Homo sapiens: one gene and its partners. The protein of the gene in region 3 interacts with the protein of the main gene of each other region in a pairwise test. Each region holds a gene or a part of one and is shown on either strand. Other genes may lie near its edges.

Region 1 (3,217 bases), on a different chromosome or scaffold from region 3:
TCCACAGCCACAGGCTTAGGAAGGCAAGTCTCATTGGGGAGAAAGCAGAACTTTGATCCCCAGGGCAAGAAGTAAGGGCGACTGGGTTTCCTGACCCTCCGGCCCAGCTCATCTAGAGCAGACTGTCCACTGATCATCTTCTTCAACCAGGCCCTGAAGAAGGCACCTCGAGGCTTGTGACTCTGCAGCATCTGGCAAGCTGGATGGATCAACATAGGCCTGGGTGAAGATGGGGCTCACGAAATGGGCAGCTATTGGGTACCTATAAATATGGACAGAAGTGGCCACACAGGCCACCCCAGCCAGCTTGGGAGGGGCTAAAGGCAAGGCAGAGACTGCTGGATGCCTCAGATGAGAGCTGACAACCCCAGGTCTTAGGAAAGACAGGGATCCCAAACTCCAGGCCAAAAGCAGTGACAACTCCAGCCTCTTACTTGGGAAGGATTTGGGACTGAGGGAAGAGGGAAGACCGTGCCGTCTTCACAAAAAGTACCTACCACTTTGCTCCATTTTTCTGATCTCCTACTGGTACAGGAAACAGAAAAGCCAGCCCCAGGGTCAGTAAAGGCTTCCCAAAGTTCAGACATCCAGGAAAGTTCAAGTCCACCGCCTTGCTTCAGAGCCGCCCAATTCTCACCCCACCTGCCCTGAAGCCCACCATCCCAGCAGCCTAAGAACGCCCTCCTGGCTGATCCTGGTGGCCCAGACCCATCACCGAGGGCCGGCTCCATCGGCGGCAGGCAGCATGGCAGGATGGAGGCTGCGGGCCGTGTGCTTGGGCGCGGGCTCCTCCGTGTAGCTGTCCGGGCTGGCTGCCCCATCCAGGGAGCTGCCGCAGCTGGAGTTGGGGGAAAGCACGTCTTGCAGGAGGTCATCTGGGGGCGCGCCGCCCCCTCCCCCACCTCCACCCCCACCAGCCCCCACCACAGGGTCCTTGCCAGTCTTGGCCCGCTGGGTGCCCTCCTCCTCCTGGTCATTGAGCAGCTTGGCCAAGAAGTTGATATACTTCATGGCCAGGCGGAGGATCTCATTCTTGCTGAGCTTCTTGTCCGGGGGATGTGTGGGGATCAGCTTGCGGAGCTCGGCAAAGGCCCCGTTCACATTCTGCTGCCGCCATCGCTCCCGGCTGTTGGTGAAGATACGCCGCACAACTTTGGTGTGGGGACCTGGAGATTAGGAGGACAAGAGTTAGGAGAATGGGCTTGAGATTCCTTCCCCAAAGGCATCTCCATACATTGGGAAACTTGGGAAGCCTAGAATGCCTACTTTCCTTTTACTTAGAAAACATCCACCCTTCAAATTCAAGTTCCTGTGCTTCCTCATCTATGGGAACTTCCTCAACCCCTCCAGACAGATGTAACCAACCACCACGATACCGCAATCCCTGGAGTTCCATCACTCTTGATCATTACTTATGTTTCTGTGCTTGTCTCCCTCCCTGGGCTGTGATATATTTGAGGACAGGGACCGTATGTTATTCATTCATCCATTCACTTGTGCCAAGAGGCCTTACAGCTATGTCTAAGGAGACAGACTCCATTCCTATTTGACTACCCCTACCTAAATGAATGACTCTGGGCAAGTGACATAAAAACTTGTGAAGTGCCTTGGCTTCATCACCTGCAAAATGGAGGTAATACTACTAAGTCATGAGTTGTTACATGGGTCTAGTACCTAACACAGGTAAAGAACTTAAGACAATGCCTGCCTCAGCTTAGCAGTCAATAAATGTTAGCTATTATTATCCATGTATCAGTTTTTTGCTAACAACCAGGCACTGTGCTAGGCACTGAGGAATAATGGTGAACTAAATTGAGTGCCTGCCCTCATGGAGCTTACATGTTAATGGGGAAACGAATATTAAAAAACAAACAAACCAGGGCTGAATTGTAATGAAAAGAAGCTCCATGTTTAGCTCCAGTGGCTGGGAAGGCTTGTCTGAGGCTGTGAAGAAACAGCCAGGCACAAGAAGGGGAGAGGAAGAAGAGTATCCAAGCCAAGGGAATGCACAGGCCCTGCACTAGACAAGGCCTGAAGCCAGGCTGGCTGGAGTCCTGTGCACAAGATCAGAGTAGGCAGGGTCCAGACTCCACAGGGCCTTGCAGTAAGGCGGGGGGACTTTATCCTAAGGGTGATGGAAAGCACAGAGTAGGGGCTTAGAAAATGTCTGCTAACTGACCCATCATGGTGGCAGGTGGGGAATGGAGGGGAGAGCAGAGATCGATGCAGAAGGGCTCTCATACCCAGGAGAGAAGTGAAGACACAGCTATGCACAGCCATGGCCTATAGCTCTAGGCAGGCTTCTGAAGGCTGCCTCAGTCTCCTCATGTCTACAATCCACTGACTATGGCTTGGCCCAATAGTCACTAACATTCCATGTATAAAGACTTATGGAGCAGTGGCAGATACCAGCACACATGTCTAGGGCACTTATGGTGTGCAAAGCACTGTGCTGTGTTCAAGACTCACTGGGGATTTGTAAAGCCAGGGGAAGACAGTGAAGGGTCCTACTAGTGCTCTTGAACTTCTGGGCTGAGGAGACTGCTTCTCTCCCTAACATCGAGGCACAAGCCAGGGTCACATAGTCCAGGAAGCTCTGAGCACTGAAGGAACTGCCAGTCCTAGGATATTTATTTTCCCTCTTCTAGTAACCCCTGGAACCAGACCTCAGAGTGTGAAAACCGAGGTAGAGGAGAAGAGCTAAGACCTCACCTAAGTCCCACTGCCCATTTTATAGCTAAGGAGACTGAGGCTGGGATGGAAGCAGACCTCACCTCAGTGGTCAGTCTGTGAATCAGCTCATCCATGCCACACTTACTGCCTGATCATCTCTTTCTCTCTCCTACACGCACACAGGCATGCACATGCATGTGTGGGTGTTCACACACACACACTTTTAATGGGAAGGATCACCATCCCCTGCCCATGGTACCTCTGAAGCTGCCTTTCCAAACCATAGCAGGCCCTAGCCCAGCTGACTGTTTGCCAAAGGCCAGACCCAGCCTGGGAAAAACACAGCACAACTGCAGGGCAGTTCTACCCTGGGCGGCCTCTGAGGAAATTACTTGCTGCTTTCAGGCCTCCAGGCCAGACAGAGAGCATCCCTCAGCAGTGACATAGGGAGGACAGTCCCTCCACCATGGCTAATGCTGGTGATCTTGAGGGAGCTCCTAGTTGGGGAGGGGGTACTTATGACTGCTGTCACAGCTGGAGCTAG
Region 2 (3,500 bases), on a different chromosome or scaffold from region 3:
GCAGATATACCCACATAAACATTTGCCATAAATATTTGGCAATGTGGCAAAGTGTTAACAATTTTGAATATAAATGGTTATGTTGAATCGTGTATTATTTTTATCAAATTTTCTGAAAGTTTGAAAATTATCATAATAAAAAATTGAAGGACTAATATTAAAACTGCATTTTCTTAATGTTTCTATTTGGATATGATGGAACTGTATCATTAGGCCAAATTCACAAATTTTATACACTTCACATTTCAATGGTAGATCTTTACTCATTGGCTCTAAGTTGTATAAAAGAATAAAAAAGTGTAAATTAGCAAAAAGGTAGAGTGACTTTAATTTTGAATTTTTTTGTGACATTTGGGGGAAGTCAATTTGATCAAGGAGGCCTGGAATCATTAACAATAACTCAGGGGGAAAAAAGGACTTATCCCTAAGCTATGAAAAAACCATGCATAGAATAGATGTGTTTAAACAACTGATTGGATGACAGACCCCAAAGAGAAGTAGCAGACTAAGACATGGGCAGTGATAGGTCAGGTCTATGTTCTGCTAAAGTTCCTCAGTGTTGATTTCATCCACTGTGAACAGTTACCTCCATAAACAGGTAATTTTTCTCTTTTTTTTTGAGACGGAGTTTCACTCTTGTTGCCCAGGCTGGAGTGCAATGGCGTGACCTCGGCTCACCGCAATCTCTGCCTCCTGGGTTCAAGCGATTCTCCTGCCTCAGCCTCCCAAGTAGCTGGGATTACAGGCGTGTGCCACCAAACTCAGCTAATTTTTTGTATTTTTAGTAGAGATGGGCTTTCTCCATGTTGGTCAGGCTGGTCTCAAACTCCCAACCTCAGGTGATCCACCTGCCTTTGCCTCCCAAAGTGCTGGGATTACAGGCGTAAGCCACTGCACCCGGCCTAATTTTTCTCTTTCTGACATGGATGACTTTCATTGTCTGCAGCTAATTTTTAGTATATCTATGCCCCTGGTCAAGAATTGTTGAAACATCAAGAAGAGGCATTCAGACATCCAAATTCCATGTAAACCCCTAGCACCTCTCTTCTCTTATTCTAACTCTCTGTTCACGTACAGCTCATTTCATCTTTTCCTAGCTTCATATCTATACACCATTCCCTCCAAATCACCTTCACCCATGCACTTTCTGGTCATCTTTCATAGCTTAGAGGTAAGTCCACCTTTCCTTGAGTTCTAATTGATGATTCCAGGCCTCCCTGATCAAATGGACCTCCCCTAAATATTACACACGATTCAGCATTAAACTCATTCCAATTTTTCCCTAATACTTTTCCAAGCAGGGTACAAACAAGAAATCTTCACGCCTTTCTTGACAGAAGCTTTGCTCTCTAGATAATCTTCTACTTCACAAAGATAACTGGGACAAAACAAACAGATATTTGGCAATAGGACAGGAAGAGGGGGCATGAAGAACCGAAAGGAGAGAAGGCCAAGGGAGCTCACCTGGTTGCAGACAGGCTTGTACTTGAGTCCTGGCTTGTTGAGGATCATCTCCAGCTGCCTGCGGTTGAAGTTTGACACCCCAATGGACTTGGCCAATCCTGCATCCTTACACTTCTCCATGGCCTGTGGAGAAAGGGGTTGTGAGGAATTATTTGTGCAGTTGGCTGCAAATCACGGTAAATGCAAGACAGAACTGTGAGAGCAACAACTTTCAAAGTATGACAATGAAAATAGCTAGCAGTGATTGTCAAAAAAAGAAAAATTCAAACAGCAAATAGGGGAAGAAGATAGAGGCAGCAAGAGTAAGAATTTCTATCTCTTCCTTAGGAAACTGGATAGATTAATGCACAAGCAAGGAAAGAGATTCCTGTCCTCCTTGCCCCCAAGTCTTGTGCCCCACTCTCTAAACATTCCTTTTGTGTTTTTCCCTTCATCTCACCAAAGCTACTCTTGTAAAGTTTCTGAATTTCTAGATCTAATGGTGCATATTCCATTCTTTCCTATTGAACCTGGGAAACAGATTTTCTCTTTTTGTCATCCTTCTCTGTGTCCTCTCCGCCAAGCACTCACCTCCCAGGTGGTACAGAGATCCACTATGTCAAATATTACTTTTCCATTTTCATCTGTTGGTGAAAGTTCCTCACCTGGCTGAAATAGAAGCAGTCATTTTAATGATGTCACAAATTAATTTCTCCACTCATAGCTGTAACCCCAGGTACCTTTAAGGACACTAATCCTCCATGAGACAGGTGGTACAATGCTCCAGAAAGTGATATGTGCTAAGTGTTTTACATATGAAGGTATAAGGAATGTATTCAGGAGACAGGCTTCCTCTAATCTCTTACAAATATTATATGCATGGAAAAGGACCATTTTCTAGGTCTTAATCAAGTTTCACAGTTGACTTATGTCACTTTATTCCGCCCTTATAATTTCCTCTATTGAAGTACCTCTCTTTGATTTGGAAATACCTTGATATCCAAAAATAATGGATTGTACTCTTGTACACGGTAGGATTATCAGACCACCTGAAGAGTTGATAGTCTTTGGGCAGGACTGTGAATCACATAGGGTCAGCAGAAGTTGGGAGACCCAGAGGAGTTGTCTTATGGTGATGACCATGAGCCTTGAGCTGCTCCAAAGCCATAATCGCCACCAATGAAAAAGTTTGGGTCAACAATAATAAAAAAAAGTGTTGGAGTTTAGAGATAAGAATAGACAAATGATACATTTTTGTAGACTATTTCATATCCTTAAATGTAGCCATGTCTTTGACTTCCCATTTTACATAACTCAGTAAACTCTTTTGCATTAACTAGCCTGAGTAGTTTTCTGTAACTTTAAATCAAAAGTTATACACTACACAGTAATTCCTGGCTAAATACAGCTTCAAACTCTATTGTGAAAGAAGAGGCAGCAGAATAATAAAGCTTTGCAAGTCCACATTAAGGGTTTCTAATTTAAGAACCATGCATAGTGGCTTCCACCAAATCTGCTTCAGCTTGAAATGGGGAGAGATGGTGGAAACTCATTGTGCATCACATGTGCAGCAGTTTTATTGGGCACCACAACTGCATGAAACTCTGTGTCTGGGAACATCCCAAGAGATGGACTCAAAAGCCACAACTAAGACAGTGCCTTGAAAGAGACTATTGTAATTTCAAGTTTTTGAGGAAGAGGCTTTGAGGTTGCTGTACTCTCTTCTCTTGTAGGTGTGCATTAGAGAAGTAGGATTCAAAATTTACTCGAAAGAAAGGAAATTAGGTGTTCCACTTACGGTTCTTCTTCTGTGTGATAATCCCTACATCCTCCTAATAAAAAGCTCTGTTCAACTATCCAGATAAACAATGTTTATAATGACAGCAGAAGCGCAATTTTATGCTCATACAAACTGCATACCTTTAGAGACATTGGAGAATGAATAAGATAGAGGTCAACATAGTCCAATTGAGCTTTCTTCAGTGAGTTTTCCAAGGCTGGTCGGACCAACTCTGGTCGATGAAAAGTGGACCAAAGCTGCAGAGGTTAAAGAATGG
Region 3 (3,500 bases):
CAAGTTTCCATTCTTCCAAGCATAACGGGTGTCCCCAAACCAACTAACTATGTCTGTTCTAGCAAGCCCGCTTTCTTTGGCCAACTTGTCATACTCTTCTGGTGATGGCCACTGTGTCCGGACAAATGCACTCTTAAGCATGTGCAGCTGCTCAGGTGTTTTTTTACATATCTTGCCTGTACTCCCTGACTTAGGTGCACCAGATTCATCTGCAGGAGAAGTTTCTCCAGCTTCTTCTTTGGAACTACCTGCATTACTTTCATCTATTTCCATTTTCTCTTCCTTTAAAGCTTTTGATTTCTTCTTCTCTGTAAACCAAGCATCGATTTCTCTTCTGGTAAGTTTGGTTTGTGCCCTTAACCTATTTAATTCTTCATCTGTAAGTACAGAGCTGTTGAGAAAACTTGCCTGAAGGACACGAAGCTGCTCTGCAGTTTTCTCTTTAAACTTTTGGGGAGTAAAGTCAGGAAAAGGATTCCAGGATTGCTTAGGCTGTGCAGTACCAACAGTTGGGGATTCCGTGGTTTCATCACTGGAGTCTATAATAATGGTGGTAGAGGAATCATTGTTGAGATGTAAGCACTGATTACTCTTTGAATTTCTCTGGTTGTACCTTGTGTCACTAAACCATTTTTTAATCTCTCCTTTCGTCAGGCCTGTTATTTTCATAAGTCTGATAATTTCTGAATCATGGGGAAACTGATTTTTAAGGTAGCTAACTTTTAATTCTGCCAGTTGCTCTTTTGTCTTTTTTGCCCGAATGCCAAATGAATCAGGGTTTACCAATGCAGTTTCATGTTTGACACTTTGAGAAGTTGGAACTGCTGCTGTTGCTGGCTTTGTTTCTGCAGTAGGCTGAGCAGCAGGTACCTGACTTTTCTGTATATTATTTTGACTTGGAACGCCTGCCACTGTCAAGGCTATAGGTGCTGTAACTGGCAAGGTGTTTGTTCCAGCCACTTGAGTAAGGACCAGACCAGGCTGACCAACTATTTGGCATGTCTGTAAAATAGATGGTAAACCATTACTCCCTGTGGAAATGTGTGTAGGAATAACAGTTATGGTCTGAGGTACAGTATGCACTGTTCCATTGAATTGTTTCCTTCTTGCCTCCTCTACTTCCTCGGGAGTCCAACTAACACCATGTTTTAAACGTTGGGCTGAAAACCATATCTTGATCTGTTCCTCTGTATATTTTGCTTGAGCAGAAAGAACTGTAATTTCTGACATTGTTGGGTAAGGGAACTTGTTGTAGGTGTTAAGTAAAAGGGGATTGTTATCCAATGCAGCATTGTAGGTGGGAATGCTATTAACAGGGATTAAGACTTTGGGAATCAAATTAGAATTCTGCTGAGCAGATACAGCAGTTATCACCTGTGCCAATCCAGGAAGAACTGCTGCTGGTGTCACTACCGTGCTGGCAGTACTTGGATGTATTCTGTTTACAATGGAAGTACTTGTATTAGATTCAGAAGCTGAAGAACTTGGATTTTCTACAATTTCTTCACGGTCTGGTTTGATTTCATTCTCTTTCTCTTCAGGAACGTCCTCAACTGAGTTATGATGAACTGCAATCCGTTTATTTTCCACTTTATTTTTCATCATTTTCATGATAGGAGTTTTACTGATAGATATTCCCGAAGAAGAAACTTCTGTAGATTCTGCTTGCTCTGCATTCTCCTCTTTAACAAAACTACCATCAAAAGTCAGATCATTTATTGTTTGTTCAAAGATTGTCTGGTTATTACGTTTCACCATAGTCAACTTAAAATTCTCTTCTCCTGGGTGATATTTCAGATTATGCTCAGAAAGTGCATCATACCTTTTGGTAAGAAAATTGCATTCGACACAAACATAGGATGAATTTAGCACTACATTGGGATGTTCCGAATCCACATGAAAAGTAAACATATTTAGATCTGGAGTTTGAAAAGTACAATATTTACATTCATATCCACCTTCAACTTTTTTATTTTGCTGATTGTCTGAATCCACAGATTCATGAACCTCTTCATCACTTGAGATACTCTCTGCTCTGGTGTTTTCTACAGGTGTAAGCACAGGAGGACCTTCATCCAAATCTGATATCAACTCAAGGTCTGGATCTTGTTCACTGGCAAGGACCATGCAAGGTGTTGTTGATTTTCGCCTGCTTGCCATTCTGATGTTATGAGGAAAAGCTCAGTGGTGATTAAAAAGCATCGAGGCTTAAAACTGTTCAGTGTTCTTCATTTGAAAACAATGGCTTTTGGTTCTTCAAGTCCATTTTTGTGCTCAACAAGTCTCATTAGCAGCTTTCTCATGGTGCAATCAAGTAAAGAGCTTATTGTTGGCAGATAAAATACTGCTGAATTTCTGAAATTTTTGAAGCACAACTCCAATCACCTACATTAAAATAAATTTTAAAATGTTTTAAAATGAGTAACTATGATCTTTTAAACAAATTATAGTTATAGTTCACTTATATGAAGTGGCTGGATAGCTCAGTTACAAAGATCTAGAATAAGATAAGAATCAGAAAAAAATGTCCTCTAAAGATCAAAATAAATCTCTCCAGGCCAACTCATTGAATGTTAAGTACTTTACCTTGGGTCAGACACAAGCTTATTCATTTAAATTTTTTAGCCAGCTATATATTAGAAGACAAGGGGGAAAGGGCCTGCTTTGGCAAGCACACTATTATTAATGTGAAATGGCAATGTTAACAAGGAGGAACTTTAACACTATAAAAAGCATTCACAGATACTAAAATATTATGGCCATTAAGTGTGTAAGAAATTCAGCCTGGCCAACATGGTGAAACTCCGTCTCTACTAAAAACACAAAAATTAGCCAGGCGTGGTGGCAGGTGCCTGTAGTCCCAGCTTCTCCAGAGGCTGAGGTAGGAGAATCGCTTGAACCCAGGAGGCAGAGATTGCTGTAAGCCAAGATCATGCCACTACATTCCAACCTGGGCAACAGAGTGAGACTCCATCTCAAAAAAAAAAAAAAGACAAGAAATTTAATCCATTAGTTCATTAGTTATGTCCTCTTCTTCCTACTGGTCTATCTCATCAGCCAAAAGCATGCTTCAAGTATGGCAAAAATAGCAAAGATGGAGGATGAATGATCAAAGTTTCAGAAACATTATTATTATTATTATTATTTTTTGAGACAGAGTCTCACTCTGCCACCCAGGCTGGAGTGCAGTGGCGCAATCTTGGCTCACTGTGACCTCTACCTCCTGGGTTCAAATGATTCTCTTACCTTAGCCTCCTGAGTAGCTGGGATTACAGGCGCTTGCCACCACGCCTGGCTAATTTTTGTAGTTTTAGTAGAGATGGGGTTTCACCACGTTGGCCAGGCTGGACTCGAACTCCTGACCTCAGGTGATCTGTCCGCTTTGGCCTCCAAAAGTGCTGGGATTACAGGCATGAGCCACCGTGCCTGGCCTACCAGAAACATTATTCTTAGCACTTGCCACAATGCTACCAAAAGTTATAAAGCAGATCTAATCACAT
Region 4 (2,188 bases), on a different chromosome or scaffold from region 3:
TTGGAAATCAAAGAAATGCAAATTTAGACAATGGTGAGATATTAATTTGCATCTAGCATACAAAAAATTTTGGTCTCACAATACCAAGTGTGGGTGAGCTTTAAGGTAGCTTCTGCCTAGAAATAGAAAAGCCCAATTTTTCTTTCTTCTTTTTTTTTTTTTTTTGAGATGGAGTTTCACTCTGTCACCCAGGCTGGAGTGCAGTGGCGTGATCTCTGCTAACTGCAACCTCCGCCTCCAGGGTTCAAGTGATTCTCCTGCCTCAGCCTCCTGAGTAGCTGGGATTACATGTGTGCGCCACCACACCTGGCTAATTTTTTGTGTATTTTTAAGGAGAGACGGGGTTTCATCATGTTGGTCAGGGTGGTCTCAAATTCCTGACCTCGTGATCTGCCTGCCTCAGCTTCCCAAAGTGCTGGGATTATAGGCGTGAGCCACCCTGCCCGGCCTGATTTTTCTAATTCTATATGAGTTTATAGAACCTAAGTCTCACTACACAATGCATGATAACTATTTTTAATCAAATAGTAAATAATTACACAACTATACACTTTGAATAAATTGGATACATAATTTAAATTCTACTTAACAAATTATCAGTCACCAAAGGTTACATTTACAATATATCTAAATATATAGTGGATGTATTTTTTCTTTTTTAATTACAAGCTAATAATTTTAGCAGTTGAACAGTTGAAAATTAAAATATTTTTATTGCACTTCTACATGTTGGCTGGGTTATAATGATAAATGGTAAGAAAAAGAAACAGAATTATATTTAATAGAAGCACCTATAAGATTAGATATTTATTCAGGAAAAACCAGAAGTCGTCCAACTGATTGATCATATGGTTGAAAGAGACATGAAGAGCAAAAGCTAGGACTTGGGAGTGTACACAAATGGATAGCTGAATGTGCTAATAGAAATCAGGATATAGACTTGTAATCGCAACTCCCAACAAGTTAGGGAATAAATGTATTGTCTTGGCCTTTCATGAAAGAAGCAGGTGATTTAAACTGCCTTGCCAGTAACCGGAATAAATGTTTGCTTTCATAGGCAACAGAAGAAAACTTTATAAGTGCAAAGAAATGAAACAGCTAATAGAAGTAAAACTTTACAGGCACCAAAGCTCTAAAATCCCATGCCATGTTAAATGTTAAATGACTAATAGTACTAATAGTTCTATGCTGTTTGGAAGAAATACACCTTTACTATTCCTAAATCCTTCCTAAGAGTAGTAGATCATACTACTCCTTCCTAGGAGTAGTAGTTTTGGGCTAAAATTATCCCTGGGCTCTCAGTAATGCCAATTGATGTCATCACTTGGACAGTGTCAGGAAACTGAAGGAAATAGTTTCTGCTTTTGGTCTGTGTAAACTATTTTTCAAAAGCCTGGGGTATTCTGTTCTTTCCCAGAGAGGGAAAGGAAAGGAATTTCAGAACGAGGATGCTGATATACTTTAGAAAGCTGCTACAGGTTACAGGCGCCTCTCTCGCTTGATAGTAAGGTATACCTACATGTGTAAGTGGGAGAAAAGAGCTAGTCAAGGAGAAACATTGGCTTCTGGTGCCACATTGAAAATTGCAGGTCAAGTTAATGACTAAGTCCATTTGAGCTAGAGCTAACCAGCAAGGGTTTTTCCACGTTTTTCTTTTGGCTCAAACTTGGAGCAATTTTGACCCAAAAGACGGAGAAGAAGCGGGAGAATGCTCAAGGTGAGAAAGAAAGGTCCCTTTTTGTGAGGTTTGGGCTTCAGGTACCTTTGTTATGAACTTGAGCAGGAGTTATACTCTGACGTGTTGCCCTGCAGGATAAAACCACTGAAGGGAAGGTCACTGTGAAAAGGTAAGCCACAGACTGGGAGAAGGTATTCGCAACACATATCACCAAACACGAATAAATGGCCAGAATATATGAAGAATTCCTACAAATCAGTAAGAAAAAGACCAACTAATCTTTAAAGTGGGCAAAGATTCACTGGTTCCTTTGGAGGAGAAGAAAAAAAGGCATGTTTGGCCCAGGCCTGCTGGAAAATGCTGGCAAGCATGAGTGCAGAGGTCCAAGTGTCTGCACCAATGCCACAGAACTGGAGTAGTGCCATGCCCAAGACCTGGAGAGCACATGGGAGATGTAGCTCTGTGCAGGAATAAGTACTGGCTCTCAAAGCCAGGGCTGGCCTGGCCACT
Region 5 (4,178 bases), on a different chromosome or scaffold from region 3:
CTGTGCTACAGCCTGGCGACAGAGCAAGACTCTGTATCCAAAAAAAAAAAAAAAAATTAAAATACACTTTAATTTATTGGCCGGGCACAGTGGCTCACGCCTGTAATCCCAGCACTTTGGGAGGCCGAGGAGGGCAGATCACGACGTCAAGATATCGAGATCATCCTGGCCAACATGGTGAAACCCCGTCTCTACTAAATCTACAAAAATTAGCCAGGTATGGTGGTGCACGCCTGTAGTCCCAGCTACTCGGGAGGCTGAGGCAAGAGAATTGCTTGAACCCAGGAGGCAGAAGTTTCAGTGAGCCAAGATCGTGCCACTGTACTCCAGCCAGGCAACAGAGCGAGACTCTGTCTCAAAAAAATAAAAAAATAAAAAATTTAAAATTAAAATACATTTTAACTTACTGATCAAACAGTACATCCAAAAGAAAATTGGAACCTGTATAAAATAAAAATTAAAAAAGCAGTTTGACTCAATAGGCTGCACTCATTTCAGGGCTAACACTGGAAGGTTATTCACTATGGGTCCCTATGTTATAACCAAAAAAGGTATCTGCCAGGAAGTCTTTGTGTCTTCAGAGGAGTCAGTTTGTCTGTATCCATATCCAGTGTCTTCCTTTCTGCCATGGTTGTTGGAAACATAAGAAACACATGAAGCTCAACTTATTGACTCTAACTTGGCCCTGCTATTGATCTGTTACTTTATATTTTCTGGGAAGTTCAATTTTTATCTATTACTAATTTCTCATCTTAACATATTGACTCTTGGCCAGGCACGGTGGCTCACACTTGTAATCCCAACACTTTGGGAGGCCGAGGCGGGCGGATTGCCTGAGCTCAGGAGTTTGCGACCAGCCAGGGCAACACGGTGAACACATCTCTATTAAAATGCAAAAAATTAGCCAGGCGTGGCGGCCTGCGCCTGTAGTCCCAGCCAATCGGGAGGCTGAGGCAGGTGAATTGCTTGAACCCAGGAGGCAGAGGTTGCAAGGTTGCAGTGAACAGAGATGGAGACACTGCGCTCCAGCCTGGGCGACAGAGCGAGACTCCATGTCACAAACAAAACAAAACAAAAAAACCATACTGACTCTTACAAATCTCACAAAGTCCACCGCAAAATAAAGTAGGGAATTAATAAACAACTTACCTTGTTCATTTTGTTCTGTTCTTGGAAAGACGGAGACAACTCTGAAGATACAGCTGAGTTGGAAAAAGAGGAATGGGGTCATGAAAGATTTGGCCTGCCTGGCAACTCCCGGATTCTTCTGCCCTAAGAAGCCATACACACCCACTAGGTAAAATGCTCCGTCTGGGAGAATATCAATGTCCTCTGACACTTCGGAATAGGGGGTAGAAATGGTGAAAGAACACCCTAATACAACTCCAACATAACCATGTAGCTCTTGGGCACAAGATTTTTCATCAGGTGAAAGTAAATATTTGCTTCCTAAGGATTTCAATCTCCCTCAGTCTTCACAAAAAATGTATAATGACAATATTGGCCAAACAAGTTAACAATACATTTAATGAAAAAACATTAACACTAAAACCATTGTAAAGAATAGGACTAGGCTATCGATTTTCCCAGTAATGTTACTTAACCTCTGATGAGTTAGTCCACAGAAAACCATAAGCGTCAGTGCTTCAAAGAAAAAATCCGTTTTAATTTCTTCATCTAACTTTGTTGCTATTTCTCAAAAGGATGTTTTAAACTTGCTTTGATGTGTGTAGAAAAGTAGTACTGGCTTAGGGGTCAGGAGAAGTGACTTTTAGTTCTCCCTACTAACAAACTTTGATCCTGAACAAGTCAGTAACCTTGACAAACAAAAAACAAAAAAATTATTTTTTCTTCTAACAAATGAGGCAAAATTAGGTAATTCTGGTTTTTTGTTTGTTTGTTTGTTTTTGAGACGGAGTTTCGTTCTTGTTGCCCAGTCTGGAGTGCAATGGTGCAATCTCAGCTACCTGCAACCTCCGCCTCCCGGGTTCAAGCATTTCTCTGCCTCAGTAGCTGGGATTACAGTCATAGGCCACCACGCATGGCTACTTTTAGTATTTTTAGTAGAGACGGGGATTTGCCATGTTGGTCAGGCTGGTCTCGAATTCCTGACCTCAGGTGATCCACCCTCCTCGGCCTCCCAAAGTGCAGGATTACAGGAGAGAGCCACCGCGCTAGGCCAAAATTATGTAATTCTTGAAGATCCTTCCTGAGTGCAAGATCAAGTTAGGACAGAGGAACAGCAAATAACAAGATGGGGTGATGGACATGACTGGAGGGCAGTTCGAAACCTAAAGAGGATGAACGCAGAACGGGCAACAGAGTCCGTATGTCGGGCGGGCGACTGCACCCGCCCTTTCCTACCCAGGTAGGGCCGCGCCCTAGCACATGGGCGTAAACACGCTCAACCAGAGAACTGCCCCTCCCGCAAGGCTCAGCGCTCGGACCGCGCAAGCGCACATGCCCTCCTCCGCGGCCCCTACAAACAGGGCAACGCACAGGGCGTAGCCCGCTCCCTACAGAGGCTGCGCCTTAGAGGAACTGGCGTAGCGTCCTGGTAGACATGCTGCAGCCCCGCCGTCCCCGGCTTCTCCGTGAGGTCCCCGGGACTCCTCGCCACCACCTGGCACTGGCCCCCGGCTGCCTGCTCCTGGAGTCGCGCGGGGCCCCCTCTCCGTCCCTGCCCAACCCGCGGAGGCTTACCTCACTCTCTCTTCGGGTTGCATTCGCCATAAGAGAGCCGGTAGACCCCTGAAATCCCGGGACCGCCTCCCACGCAAAACGTGAGACAAACAAAAGGAAAGGCGGAAACGCAGAAACGCAGAGGTAGCCAGTGGATGAGGCATGCGCAGAGCCCACGCTCAAAGCCTGGCGCTGTTGGCGCCCAACCTGGAAACTACCTTTCCCGTGAGGACGCGAGAGCAGCCCTTCGGGATTGGCAGAGAGGTGCCCCGCTAGGCAGTGGACAGATGCGGTCTGAGTTGGTGTGGGAACTGCCCGCAGCCCTGGCTCTCCCGGGGCGACCCAAAGGGATGCACTGCAGGGGAGGTCTGTGTGCAGCAAGTGTGCAGGTTAGACACAGACGCCTCAAGGAAAGGACAGCTGTGTGTCAGTTTCACTTTAAATGTTAGGAAGTAGATCTTATTGATACAGTTTAAAAGACTTTGACACTATCAGCGATTCTTTGAGAGCAGGGATGGGGGGGATGGGGGAGGTGCCACAGGAAAGCTACTTCATCAAAATCGTTAACGCAATAAACGGAAATTGAAAAGTCAGAAAATAGACATAATCCGAAAGAAGAAAATAAATGTCACATGATTTCCCCTGTGACATTAAAATTGCTTGACTAAATGGAAATACATTTAGTCTATCTGTACCTTTCTTAGGAAGACAAAATTCCTAAAAGAATATCAACAAATTTTTTTATGTATTTTTTCTCTTTGATCTTTAGTGTATTGTGTACTTTACAAAAGCATTGTCAACTTTATCCAGAGTAAGTAAAAAACTAAATGAACAGCCATTATACGTTTTAAAAAGCTTGAAAAAATGCCTGAGAAATATCTATATCTATCTATATATATAATATTGCTCTATTCAAAGTAGTTTGGCACCTGCTCCATGGAAATAAGACACCATGATTGAGAGTATTCTTTAATGTGTAGTAAATACAGCATTTCAAAACAGTGAGGGAAAGAATGGAGTATTCCAAAGAGCATGTCATTCCTAACAATTTGGAATATAGAGATATATATAGATCACACGTGATAAAATTCACATGTATACAGTATTGAAACATTTAAACGAGTATAAATTTTTGAAAATTGACATGTGGGCCAGGCACAGTGGCCCACACCTGTAATCCCAGCAGTTTGGGAGGTGGAGGCAGGAGGACCACTTGATCCTTAGAGTCCAAGACCAGCCTGGGCGTTATAGTGGGACCCCTGTCTCTACAAAAAATTAAAAATAACAATTAGCTGGGCATGTAGGCAGGCGCCTGTGATCCCAGCTACTCAGGAGGCTGAGGTTGGACGATCACTTGAGCCCCAGGTTGCAGTAAGCCATCATGGCACCACTGCACTCCAGCCTGGGTGACAAAGTGAGACTTTGTCTCAAAAAAAACCAAAAAGGGATGTGATACCAAAGACAGAAACTATAAATTTAATATCAGTTACATTTTA
Region 6 (3,500 bases), on a different chromosome or scaffold from region 3:
TCTGGCTCCCTAGGATTGCCAGAACCCATGGAACCTGAGTCTAGAGAACCTGCCCGCTGCACTGCGGTGTGGATGGGGCTGGTGCTGGTGAACTGACTGCGACTCGCTTCTCCCCTGTCTGTTCCAGAACCCCTCCTGGCCATGCTGTGACCTGCAACCTAACTTATAGGTAGAGACCGTCCCATGTCTACACAGAAAGCCTCCAGAGCTGCGGGGATGTGGCTGCCATGAGATCTCCACAGGCAGAGGGTAGCTTTTCCTTCCTCCTGTTGGGAGGTGACATAGAGAGAGAAAGGATGGCCTCGACAGTTAAACGTCACACTGACTGCCCAGCAACAGCCTCCTGTCTCTACAAGGAGAGAAAGGGCAGCATCGGCCACGGCTGTGTAACCACTGTGAGACTGGGGCAAAGTCCAGCTCCCGAAGGTGGCAAGCCCGGCCCAAGGGACAAGAGTGAAGGGCACATGGGACAGACCTGGGCCTGGAGGGCCCTGTGCAGCAGAGACAGGTACCTTGGCAGCGGCCAGCTCGTGGGCAAGCTCCTGGATCTTCTGCTGCTGCTGAATCAGCAGCTCCTGGACGGAGGCGAGGGTCGTCTGTAACTGAGTCACTGCGAGGAGAAAGCAGTCACGGCGCTGGCAAATTCACAGGCACAGACGTTCCCCTCGCTCGGTCCGCACACCTCGGAGCTGCCCGTGTTCCCGCTCCATCTAATTTATCTGCAGACACCCCCAGCCCCCGCAATCCATCTAATTTATCTGCACTCTGGGTGATCTGCCTGCACTGTATCTAACCTCTAGTATTTCTACTTTATCTTTCCATTGTGTAGTTGTCCATGGTCAACAGTATATCCGTCCAGAACCTCTCCCCTCTAATTAGAGCTGGCTATGATTTGCTGAGCTCTCCCGGCTTCTCTGGCGCCTGCGTCCTTCATCTCCTGGGCCTCAGTGTCCTTGTGAAACTCCTGGGGTCTCCAATGCTGGGAGAGATGCATCTCAGGTCCCCGCCACATTCACATCCAGGAGTGGCTCAAGCCGCACGTCCTGTTTCCCACTGCTCCTTCCCACCCTCCCCACCTGACCCAAGCTGCCTGCTCAACTCCCTGGTGTCCCGTGACCCCTCAGGACCTTGTTGCCACCAATGTCAGCCTCGCAGGAGCAAACGGCAGCAGGATGGACGTGTCAGAGGGTTTCTGTGAGCTTCACAAACGTGCTCCAGAGGGACACAGACTCCTGCCTGGGACAGGTGGCTCTCTCATTGGCCTTGCTCTGGTTTTTAGATTCAGAGCTGCCGTCTAGTAAACAAGTTTATAAAGAAGAGAAGCCACCTCTGGCGCGACAGGTCCCAGCTAATCTGGGCCATCGCTGGGGCACTGGGTAATGAACGCGAGCCCTGTTGAGTCGATAACAGGGGAGGTGGCTGGGGTCCCGGGAGCCACAGTAATTACAGACTCTCTTGACCCCACAGTCGAGTCTTAGAGGGAAGGGGGAAAATCACTGAAAACCCCCCTGAAAACCTCATAGAAGCAGAAATTAAAAATGAACTTTACAGCCCTTAGAAAGGCTGTCATTTTATTCCCCTTATTAATATTCTGAGGTTGGGAGCCTTTCCGTAAAAACATAATTAATTGAGGCCGCGCCGACAGTAAACAAGCAATTTCAAATTAAACCGAAATGACGGCGGCTTCATTTGCAAATGTGAACAGATTCTCAGAGCAGATAAATGAAGTCACCACATAGAGTGGAGACAGAGGGAGAGGGGAGGGGCAGAGAAGGGGCTGCTTGGAGAAGGCTGTGAGGGGTGACTTGATGGAGTCATTAATCTTTACCTGTCTGGGCCACGCTGCCACTCAGCTCAGAGAGACCGGCCTCCATCCTCTCCAGCTGCTTTCTGTCCTCTCGGCCGCCCAGGATGAGGGGGAGCAGGTATTTCTGCAAGAAGCGGGACAGGGTGAGGAATGCATACGGACCCGGGGTTATCCTCCAACAATCTCTCAAATTCTGCCGCCCAACTTTCTCCCTGTCATCCCTGGGTTTTGGAAACCCTAAGCAAACACCATAAATGAACAAGATATTTGAAAAAGTTATGAGACTGCGATTACAACCACGTAAAAATTCTGCCTGAATAAGGACAAGGACCAGGAGGGAACGTGGACAGGGAGAGTCAGCTGGATCTGCTGTGATGGGAACTTTTTGGTTCCTTTATTTACTTTTCTTAGTGATGCTACACTATTTCTGTAACACAAAGTTATAAACTCTACTGTCAAAGTTGTAAGATATAAATGTGGATGGACACACAAGCAACAGATAATGCTGGAGCCTCCAGGAGGCGAGGGAGGCGGGGCAGCTCTTCCCGGCATGTTCTCCTGAATTGTGAACATTTTGAACCTGTGAGTGAATCACCTATTCAGAAACAAACGAGTAAATTAATAAACAAAACATCGCTGGAGAAACTAAAGGAAAATCAACAACACATTTCTGGGACCCTTGGTTCTCTCGCCAGGGGATAACATGTGCGCTCTGAGGCTGCTGGAAGAGGTCACCTCAGTCTTTTTCTAAATGAAGCCTGAATCCTCAGAACAAACTTCCTTCACGTAAGAGTCAAAAGAAGTCGAGTTCCCCAGAAGGAAACACAAGGCAGAAGGGAGAGGAAGGCGCAGGACCAGAAGAAACTGGCTCTGGGGAAAAAGAAAGTGAATGCGGCAGGGCCACCCCTCACAGGGGCCTAGAACCAGGGATGCCCGAAGGAGCCGTTCAGGAAGGGGGCAGGCAGGGCAGGGCTGGCAACTGGTGCTCTTGGTTGCCTTGGAGGTGAGGGTGTGGAGGGGTGGAGGTGGGTGGTGGGGCCTGCAGGGACAGCTGCGTGTAGGAACATGTGCACTGACGTCCAGCCACTCGGGACATGGAGACAAAGCCCCCCAGGTGAGGAGTGAGACCCGCTGCCCCCTTCAGTGGGCACTGCCAGAGGCAGTGCAGTGCAAGCCTGGCAGGAGCTGCCCGGGGATAACTTTGGTTCTTAATCTATCTGGGCCCAGATAGGAAAGAGGACGGAAACTTCTCCATTACGGTTTCTGTACCAGGGAAGGAAAAGAAGCTCTCTCACAAGGGGTTTGTGGGAACTCATTTCCAGAGTGACTCCTAAGTGAAGATCATTCTTCAGCAGCACATGTATAGACGCATTTTCTATTTTGCAAAGTGCTTTTCAACCACAGTGTGAGCTATTACCCACAACTGAGCCAAAACTCATCAAAGGTAGCCTTACACTTCAGGATGAAATGTCCTCAGCAAGAAAGGTAAAGAATTCTTGGCCGGGCGCGGTGGCTCACGCTTGTAATCCCAGCACTTTGGGAGGCTGAGGTGGGCAGATCATGAGGTCAGGCGTTCGAGACCAGCCTGGCCAACACAGTGAAACTCCGTCTCTACTAAAAATATAAAGATTAGCTGAGTGTGGTGGCGCATGCCTGTAATCCCAGCTCCTCGGGAGGCTGTGGCTGGAGAATC
Region 7 (2,521 bases), on a different chromosome or scaffold from region 3:
GGAGCCACCGCCCCCGACCCTCTCTCACTTCTCAAATCTCTTTCCTTTTTCCACCTTCTAGGTGTCAAAGACAGTGGATGGTCTCTGAGGTTCAAAACCAAGCTGACCGGGTAAGTATTTACAGCAAAGCATCCAATGGGCTGCTGCGGGGATGACTTGTAAGACAACACGCTTCCTCGCTACAGGAAGCTGCTGTCCCTAATGCCAAAGAAACCGCCGCTGACGCCATCCCCCAAGGAGAACACCTGCTCCTGGTCCAGGCCCCACTCCCCCTCGTCCTGGTCCTCGGGTTCCGCCTCTGCCCCACTCCGGGCGTTCTCATACAGAAACACCTGCTCGTCCACGTGCGCGGGAGCCAGCCGGTTCCTCTTGGCGCTGACCACGTTGGCGGCGGATCCGAAGAGACGCTCAGGGGCGACGCGCGTGGCCGTCACGCACCAGTACTTCTGCAGCACCTTGGGCAGCAGGGGGAAGAGGGCCAGGCGGTCTGACCACCACTTGAGGGGGTCTTCGTTGAGGCCAAGCACCTTCTGGGACTTGAAGTTGCTCAGCTCCTCCACCACCTGGGCATGCCACTCTTCCTGGTCCTCCACGCCGCCTGTCTGGCAGAAGATCTCGGCCAGCATGTTGTTGATGACGCTGGCGGGCGGCGGCGTGGATGTCCGCATGAGCTTCTTGACGGGAGGCTCCTCGGGCACCGGGAAGATCTTGTCCTCAGCCGGCCGGTAGCCGCCGTCTTTGACCTTGTCCAGCAGGCCCTTGGCCTCTTCCACCACGCGATTCTCCACCTGCTGCCGCTCGAAGGCGGAGAGGAAGGGCAGCCTCTTGTAGCGGGGGTCCAGGAAGGTGGCCACGTTGAGAAACATGTCGATCTCGGGCGTCTCCTGGTAGGTCTTGGAAAGCTCCTTGGCGATGACCTCCTTGGCCATGCTGAGCTCCTTGGAGTCGGTCTCCTTGATGTTGAGCGTGGTGTTCAGGAGCATGTGCAGCAGCGGCTTCACCATGCTGATGGTGGGGTACCTGGAGGCCGACAGCATCTCGGCCACCTGCTTGAAGGGCTGCAGGAGCTCCACCAGCCCCTCGATGGTGGCCCACTCGCTGGCCTCCAGCATGAGGTGGTGGTTGTTGCTGTCCTCCACCAAGACCCCGGCGATGACGAACTGCTGCTCCTTGAGGCGCTGCAGCATGGCCAGCGTGCTCCCCCACCAGGAGACGCGGTTGCTCACCAGCATGCAGTGGGCCACGTTCTGCTGCTTCTGCTTCTCATAGAGCATGTACATGGCCACGGCAGACTGCTGGAAGTACTCCACCAGTTTGCGGCAGCGCGACAGCAGCGCCCCCAGCTTCGGGAGCTGGAAGGCCTGCTGGATGCCGGCATTGAAGGTGTGGCCCAGGCAGGGCATGTGCACTGCGACGTCCAGCAGGGAGCACGCCTTCACGATGTCCTTGCCATAGTTGGTGGTGGCCCCGAAGACCTTGGCGCTGATGCCCCACTCGATGAAGACCTCATAGAGCACTCGCGTGATGGTCTCCGCCGTGTTCTCTTCGGGCACCTCGAAGGTCTTCAGGCAGCGGGAGCCCATGGACAGGCAGTTGGGGGCGCCCAGGCCCAGGAAGTGGGCGGCCAGCGTGACGTAGGCGCGGTTCTGATTCTCACTCCTCCACATGTCGGTGGAGATGCCACACCAGGTGGCCTCGGCCAGCTCCTTCAGGATCACCTCCCGGACGGCCCCGTACTTCTCAGGGATGGCCTTGGTAGAGATGTACTTCCGGCTGGGCAGCTCATACCGGGGGTCGGCCGTCTTCAGCAGCACCTTGAAGGTGGGCTCGTCCACGATGGAGGCTGGGTACAGCCCCTCGCAGATGAGGCCCAGCACGGCGGCCGTCAGCTCCTGCTGCTTCTTGCTGTCGTAGCCGTGGCCGGCCTTGACGGCCAGCGCGTCCTGCCCGGGCTGCTGGGACGACTCGGGCTTCAGCTTGGAGAAGGCGGTGGCGAAGGCTTCACGCATCTGCTCCGTGTTGCTCTTGACGAACTCGCAGAATTCCTCGGGGTGGTTCTTCTCCAGGTGGTAGGACAGGTTGGAGGTGTTTCCGGAGTAGGCGATCTGGGCCATGCAGATGCGGCAGTAGATTTTCTTCCACTGCAGGATGCATCCCTCGGCGTTGGTGTCGAAGCCGAAATACTTCCACACCTTGCTCTTGGCGCGGGGGTGGGCCACCAGCTTCAGGTCTGTCTGGGAGCTCTCCAGGCTTTTATTCTCCATTGCTTCTCCACCGGAGCCTGCCTGCTGGACGGCTGCTCATGCGTGGGGACCTGCTGAGAAGGGCCAAGACAAACACAGCATGAGAAGGGACCCAGGCACGCACGGGAGCCCTGCCGGGGAGACAGACAGGGTGCCGGGGCAGCTCCGCTTTCAACCAAAGGGCACTGGGGCCGGACGGCTGGACCTTCCTTGCGGGTCACTTTTGCAGAGTGGAGGAGGGAACCTAGCGCAGGAATACGCTCTTTCTTCCACGTTAA

Evidence for each region.
Region 1: the proteins of ZHX1 (region 3) and TAL1 interact in a two-hybrid assay, tested with the Homo sapiens proteins (one large-scale study listed by BioGRID).
Region 2: the proteins of ZHX1 (region 3) and AKR1C3 interact in a two-hybrid assay, tested with the Homo sapiens proteins (one large-scale study listed by BioGRID and IntAct).
Region 4: the proteins of ZHX1 (region 3) and GNG11 interact in a two-hybrid assay, tested with the Homo sapiens proteins (one large-scale study listed by BioGRID and IntAct).
Region 5: the proteins of ZHX1 (region 3) and ZNF33B interact in a two-hybrid assay, tested with the Homo sapiens proteins (one large-scale study listed by BioGRID and IntAct).
Region 6: the proteins of ZHX1 (region 3) and PEX14 interact in a two-hybrid assay, tested with the Homo sapiens proteins (one large-scale study listed by BioGRID and IntAct).
Region 7: the proteins of ZHX1 (region 3) and ZBED1 interact in a two-hybrid assay, tested with the Homo sapiens proteins (one large-scale study listed by BioGRID).

What each region holds. Positions count from the first base shown.
Region 1 is NC_000001.11:47,219,009-47,222,225, forward strand, and holds part of TAL1 (T-cell acute lymphocytic leukemia protein 1), read right to left. Parts: intron 1,167-3,217; coding exon 712-1,166; 3' UTR 1-711. UniProt on the Homo sapiens protein: Implicated in the genesis of hemopoietic malignancies. It may play an important role in hemopoietic differentiation. Serves as a positive regulator of erythroid differentiation.
Region 2 is NC_000010.11:5,097,414-5,100,913, reverse strand, and holds part of AKR1C3 (aldo-keto reductase family 1 member C3), read right to left. Parts: intron 3,481-3,500; coding exon 3,364-3,480; coding exon of another isoform or gene 3,316-3,363; exon of another isoform or gene 2,738-3,315; intron 2,113-2,737; coding exon 2,035-2,112; intron 1,588-2,034; coding exon 1,465-1,587; intron 1-1,464. UniProt on the Homo sapiens protein: Cytosolic aldo-keto reductase that catalyzes the NADH and NADPH-dependent reduction of ketosteroids to hydroxysteroids.
Region 3 is NC_000008.11:123,253,787-123,257,286, forward strand, and holds part of ZHX1 (zinc fingers and homeoboxes protein 1), read right to left. Parts: intron 2,386-3,500; 5' UTR 2,161-2,385; coding exon 1-2,160. UniProt on the Homo sapiens protein: Acts as a transcriptional repressor. Increases DNMT3B-mediated repressive transcriptional activity when DNMT3B is tethered to DNA. May link molecule between DNMT3B and other co-repressor proteins.
Region 4 is NC_000007.14:93,926,923-93,929,110, reverse strand, and holds the end of GNG11 (guanine nucleotide-binding protein G(I)/G(S)/G(O) subunit gamma-11 precursor), read right to left. Parts: 3' UTR 501-2,188; downstream 1-500. UniProt on the Homo sapiens protein: Guanine nucleotide-binding proteins (G proteins) are involved as a modulator or transducer in various transmembrane signaling systems.
Region 5 is NC_000010.11:42,635,771-42,639,948, forward strand, and holds the start of ZNF33B (zinc finger protein 33B), read right to left. Parts: upstream 2,801-4,178; 5' UTR 2,734-2,800; coding exon of another isoform or gene 2,704-2,733; exon of another isoform or gene 2,535-2,703; intron 1,203-2,534; 5' UTR 1,159-1,202; coding exon 1,150-1,158; intron 1-1,149. UniProt on the Homo sapiens protein: May be involved in transcriptional regulation.
Region 6 is NC_000001.11:10,621,450-10,624,949, reverse strand, and holds part of PEX14 (peroxisomal membrane protein PEX14), read right to left. Parts: intron 1,932-3,500; coding exon 1,829-1,931; intron 611-1,828; coding exon 513-610; intron 1-512. UniProt on the Homo sapiens protein: Component of the PEX13-PEX14 docking complex, a translocon channel that specifically mediates the import of peroxisomal cargo proteins bound to PEX5 receptor.
Region 7 is NC_000023.11:2,488,456-2,490,976, forward strand, and holds part of ZBED1 (E3 SUMO-protein ligase ZBED1), read right to left. Parts: intron 2,318-2,521; 5' UTR 2,265-2,317; coding exon 180-2,264; 3' UTR 1-179.